Linked DNA regions of Homo sapiens: region 2 is linked to region 1. Evidence: fine-mapped expression QTL. Tissue or cell type: monocytes after Pam3CSK4. Region 1 holds a variant in brackets; the other region holds the start of a gene. All regions are shown on one strand. Distances are from middle to middle.

Region 1 (2,753 bases):
GCTGGTCTCGAACTCCTGACCTCGTGATCCGCCCGCCTTGGCCTCCCAAAGTGCTGAGATTACAGGCATGAGCCACGGCGCCCAGCCAGCAGTGCCTTTCTAAAGCATGAGATCCTGCCCTTCCCCAGCCTAAAACCTTCTGGTGGCTTTCAGATGAGAACTGAACTCATCCTTGGCCAACAAGGCTCCGGACAGTCCCTGCTGCCCATCACCCTCCAGGCTCAGTCTCGGGCACGGCTGCCCTGGCCGCTCTCTTGTCCTTTGCTGGGGGACTTTGCTCTTGCCATCCCATGGGCTTAGCATGCTCCTCCCAGACCTCAATGCACCTCCTCATCTCTCAGGTCTCTGCTCCCATGACCCAACCTCAGGAAGCTGGGGGTGCGGTGGGCGGGCTGTGGCCCAGGGCAGGTTTGGGGCTGTGCTTTGTGACTCAGCGCTGGTTCACTTCTCTGCACTGGGGTGTGGTGGGGGTGATGCTGCTTTTAGTCAAAGCAGCTACAAAACTCCGAGAGCAAGTCGGCCGTTTTCTACATCTGGGCTGGCCGGGCTCCTTCTCGGATTTATCACAGGCGGGCAGCCGCTGACCCCTCCCTTTGCTATTGGAGGTGAGGAGAAGGAAGGGGACACGGGCCCTGGGAACTCGCCCCTGCTGAGTTACTCTACTTTTGGCAGCCTGAAGTTCAGGCTCCTGGCCCAGCATTGCAGGTTCTCCACTGTCAGGGTGGACCCCAGGCTCAGAACCCTCATCAGCTCAGGGCTCTACCCCCGCCTGGAACCGACCCACAGACCTTCCCTTCCGTCCCTTGGCTCAGGACGCAGGCCAGGGCAAAAGTAAGGGGCACAAGTGGGGAGAAAACCTGTGGAGGTGCCTGCTTGGTGCAGGCTCAGGCAGAGGCTCTGGACATGACACTTCCCCTTTAACTGACTTATCACGCCCAACTTCCAGGCTGTGTCATGCCCATTATGCAGAGAAGTGAAATGAATCACAGAGAGTTCATTAACGGGACAAAGCCTCGCAGGGGAACAGGATTCAGTCGTAGAACTCAGGCCCAAATGACTCCGCAGCTGCTGGCACACCACGTGTGCAAGTGCA[GAC/G]ACACACACACACACACACACACACAGCCTGCCTGTGCTGCTGAGGATCGCGATAAGGACCAAGACCAAGAGAAAGAGTAGCCAAGGGGAGAGGGAAAGTCCTTTGTTGGGACAGTCCTGGTGGCAAACGGCATTTTGGCTGAGAAACCCCTTAAGTTAGATTTGACACCATGACTTGGGGTGGGGGGCACAAGCTTATCTCAGAGCCATCAACTCCCCCGCTCTGGGGTCTGGTTAATCTGTGTCAGGGACACAGCCCTGTGTGCTAAGAGGGAAGCTGGCCTTGTGTATGGGGCGGGCCGGGCACCCAAGGGCCCCGTGGCCCCCCCTTTTCTTCCCCAGGTGGCTGCCCCGCCCCAGAGGCGCTCCTGCCACCCGCCCCTCCGACGGGGGGTGCCTCCAGCCACTTGTCCACAGCCTCGGGAGTCCCCACAGCAGAGGCAGCCGTGGGAGGGTGAGTTCTGAGGAGATTGGGATCCTCTCCAGGGATGAGGGAGCCGGGCTGGAGGGGCTCTGTGGGGAGCGGGGAGACTTCGCTGGGGGACTCTGCTCCTGCTGATAGAAGAGAAGAGGAGCGCGCTATGGGCGTCTAGTGACTTGAGGCTGATAGAAAAGAAGGGGCCCCTGGCCAGGCTCCATGCTGAGGGCCGGGCGTGTTTGCTGCTTTTGAAGACAGAGAGCCTGGGGCGGGGAAGCTGGCGGCTCCTTCTTCCTCCCTCAGCTTGTCCCTTGCCCTGACCGGACACCCGGTGGGGCTCAGAGTTAATGGGGTCACAAGAGATCTACCAGCTCAGGAAAGAAGAAGGTGAGCAACAGGGACAGCTTCGGTTCTCCCATTCGGGGCGGGGTGGCCTCGGGCAGGTTACCCCATGGCTCTGCTCCTGAGCCTCCTCCCTGGGAAACTGGGCCAACACCTCCTACCTCACGGGCAGGCCGTGAGAACCAAACCTCGGAGTCATTCGCCACCAGGAAATGCAAATGAAAGCCACAGTGAGATGCCACCACACGCCCACGGCGACAGTGACAGACAATCAGTGCTGGCCGGAACGGCAGCTGCCCCCCTGACCTCCCCACTCCTCTCTGGCGGGAACGGAAAACAGCATAGCCCCCTTGGAAAACAGTTTGACCATTTCTCAGAAAGTTCCACGTCACCTCCTTATACTAGATGGGAGAAGAGTGTGTGAAGAATGATTCCATTCAGATGTTTCTAGAAAATGCACACTCATCACAGTGACAGAGGCAGATCAGAGTCTGTCTGGAGAGAGAGGGTGGGCAGGGGCAGGAGGGACGGGCGACAGAGGGGCACATGGCTTCAGGGGGCGGTTTCACAGGTGTAGACATGTCAAACTCATCAAATTGTACTGCTTCATTAAATGTCAGTTATACCTGGGTAAAGCTGTAGAAAATATCTTTTTGGAGGCAATAAAGGGTGGATTTACACTGAAAAAAAAAATGCAAGGCAAGTGAGGCACCTGGCACAGGACTGTTCAGTCAATGCCGACTGCTGAACATGTGAGCCCAGTTTCTCGCAACTTCCATTCATTCTTTCCTCCCAGAACATGGAAACGGAGCAAGGGGAGGGACAGGAGCTCTCAGTCCTGCCTTCAGGAGCGCCCAGAGACACGCTTCACAGAACTGGGTCGGGGTGCTAGGGATCC
Region 2 (2,626 bases), 120 kb before region 1:
GCGCCTTCTTTCAACTGCCTGAAGCTTGTGAACCGACTGAATACATTTAAAGGGCTCACAGATCTCAGGACGCAGTCTCCCCGCACAAGAAACTTAAAAACGCCTTTCAGTCTCGCAGAGACCTACTTGGATGTTTCCAAGTTCCATCGTTTGGTAGCTACCCAGCATCTGGGGCGAAAAAAAAGGACTTATCCTTGGAAAAGCGGCTTCTTGAGTCTCAACAACCGGAGGGACACAGTAGGGAAGTCAGGGCTCACCTAAAACCCTCCACCCCAGCAGACAGTCCGGCAAGCCCCGGCTCACGTTTGTTTCCGTGCCCGCGAAACTCTCAATGAAAAGCATCTCACAAAAGGCCTCCCCTGCTCCCCGCGCCGAGGACTCACCAGCACCGTGGTGCAGATGGATCTCAGCTCGGACTCCACTTTCTCCCGATAGTCCTTAATCAGCTGCAACTTCTTGTCGGAGGTGTCGGTCTTCTGCTCGATGCTAGAGATGACCCTCCAGGCGGACCTGCGGCCCCCGACCACGTTCTTGTAGGCCACGGAGAGCAGGTTGCGCTCCTCGTTGGACAGCTCGGCGCCCTGCTCGGTCACTGCCTTCATGCAGGTGGCCATGTCGTCGTAGCGCTCGGCCTGCTCGGCCAGCTTGGCCTTCTGGATCAGCTCAGTCTTCTCCATGGCGGGCGCGGGGCCGGGGCCGGGGCGGAGGGCGAGGAGAGCGAGGGCGAGCGCCGACCCGCAGCGGGAGGAGCCTCGAGAGCTGCGGAGGGGCGGGGCGGCGAGGCGAGAACAAAAAGCAGAGAGGGAGCGCCGTCAGACAATGCGGCCCGCCGCCCGCTTTTGTCTCCCGCACACGCGGCCGCTTGAATTTCCCTCTCCCCCGCCCCCTCCCCCGCTGGGCACCCGGGGAGGCCGCGGCCCGCGGCTGGAGGAGGCGGGGGCGGCGCGGAGGCCCCGCGCGCAGGGAGCCCGAGCCGCGGCCGCTCCCGCCACCCCCGCCCGGCCGGCCCAAGATGGAAGCGACCGTTGGCCCCGCACCTTCCCGCCCGGAGCCGTCCCTGAGGGGAGCGGCATCGACAACCGGCTGCTCTCAAGGGCGGCACCTCCGCCCGGCCCTCAATCCGAGCGCGGCCGGAGGAAGCCCGCGGGCCGACCCAGGCGCTCACCTTCACGTCTCCGCGGCCGCGACGCGAGTCCCACCACTTTGATCTGCTTTTGGCTTTAGCTGAGGACCCTCCCGTGTCAGCCTACCCCGGGGCCGAGGGGCGGTCCACCGCCCAATGATGCGCCGAGCTTCTCCCGAGAGTCCCGCCCCCAGCGCGCCGCTGGCCAATGAGGACCGAGCGCGCGGAAGGGGGCGAGGGGGGCGGAGCGGGAGGGAACGCGGAGGCTAGGAGGGTGGGTCGGTACGGGGAAGTTCGGTTGGCCGGCAGGCTGCGGCTTCGGCCACGGGGTTTCCTCCAATTAGATCCAGGGTAAAAGGACGTCACTGTTGCCATGGCGATGCCGTTACCAACTCCCCTCAGCCTCCCCGCCACCCCGGCACTTCTGGGTGCGGCACGAGACCCAGAGGCGCGCACGACCTCCTAGGCGGCGGCTGCGTCTCCCGCTGCGGATGGTGCATTGCATCTCACGGGCTCTGGCCGAGGCTGGACTTCGGAGGGTGACATATTCAGCTGTTTTAGAGCACGGGGGCCTTTCTTTCCTCCACCTTTCTATCCGTGACAAAGGTTTGGATCCCAAGACACTAAACCCAGACCTTAATGACGTTGCCATTAGGGCTCCGAATTAAGCAAACCGCATCCCCATTAAAGAAGAATTGATTCTGGAGACGGTGTCTTCAGTATGGCATTTACATGATAAATTCAAGTTTTCAGATGGGCATCCTAAAACAAAAAATTCCCTTGTGAAAAGGTAGGTCCCAGAAGATCCAGGGGAGTTTCTGTGACAATGCCAAGTATTGTGGTTTTCTTTAAAATGAGAAATGACATTAAGCACAATTTGCAGGAAAACACCTATTACTACCCCTTCCCACCCCCGCAAAAAAAAACCCTGCCCATAACATCTCTCCCCGCAAAAAAAAAGCAATTTTTATGTATCTTTTAGGCTTTCCAGGTTATGCACCTAAATACATCATTTTTCACATCGTTGTCACATGTGCACACGCTTTTGTTTCTGGTATTATTTGTGAGAGGTCACTTGAAAAGCTGAAATCCTCTCCCTGGATGTTGATTTCTGATTTTCTCCTCCTGGGGAACACCCTGCTGAAGCGAGAAAGATTCCCCCAGGCCCCTCCCATTCAGGGTCATCCCTGGCAGCTCCCTTTCCTCTTAAACCACTCCTGTCTCTCCTTGCACTTCCCCAGTTCCCTAACTCCATCCAGGTAGGGTGGCTGCCCTGCCCGTCTGGCGCGTGGTCCCTGTGCCATCTTAAGATGAGAATTGCCCTCTGGGTTCACGCTGCTATGATCCCGATTCCAGCAGGTCTAAGGAGAATGGATCATAAAGAATTTCCCATTCTGAGTGGAGACTGGAGCAAATCCGGAGAATCTCTAGAATGGGAGATTTGAGAGTGCAGACAGATGGGAGGAGAAGGTGCCGACTTTCCAGAAATTCAGACTCCCTCTT

The links. PIP is the estimated chance that this variant, and not a neighbour inherited with it, causes the effect.
Region 2: it holds the start of YWHAQ, and the variant in region 1 is fine-mapped to the expression of YWHAQ in monocytes after Pam3CSK4 (Quach 2016, PIP 0.95).

Annotation. Positions count from the first base shown.
Region 1 is chr2:9,752,364-9,755,116 of GRCh38, forward strand. It overlaps LOC124905969 (a long non-coding RNA gene), which reads left to right and starts at 469. Exons shown (of 3, transcript XR_007086205.1): 1 at 469-605; 2 at 1,438-1,900; 3 at 2,028-2,490. RefSeq lists enhancers at 704-1,490, 1,491-2,277, 2,175-2,324. The variant GAC/G (reference allele first, on the strand shown) is at 1,094.
Region 2 is chr2:9,629,776-9,632,401 of GRCh38, forward strand. It overlaps YWHAQ (tyrosine 3-monooxygenase/tryptophan 5-monooxygenase activation protein theta), which reads right to left and starts at 1,222. Exons shown (of 6, transcript NM_006826.4): 1 at 1,166-1,222; 2 at 384-759. The coding sequence starts at 677. RefSeq lists enhancers at 1-710, 454-553 and silencers at 674-1,023, 1,224-1,323, 1,374-1,543.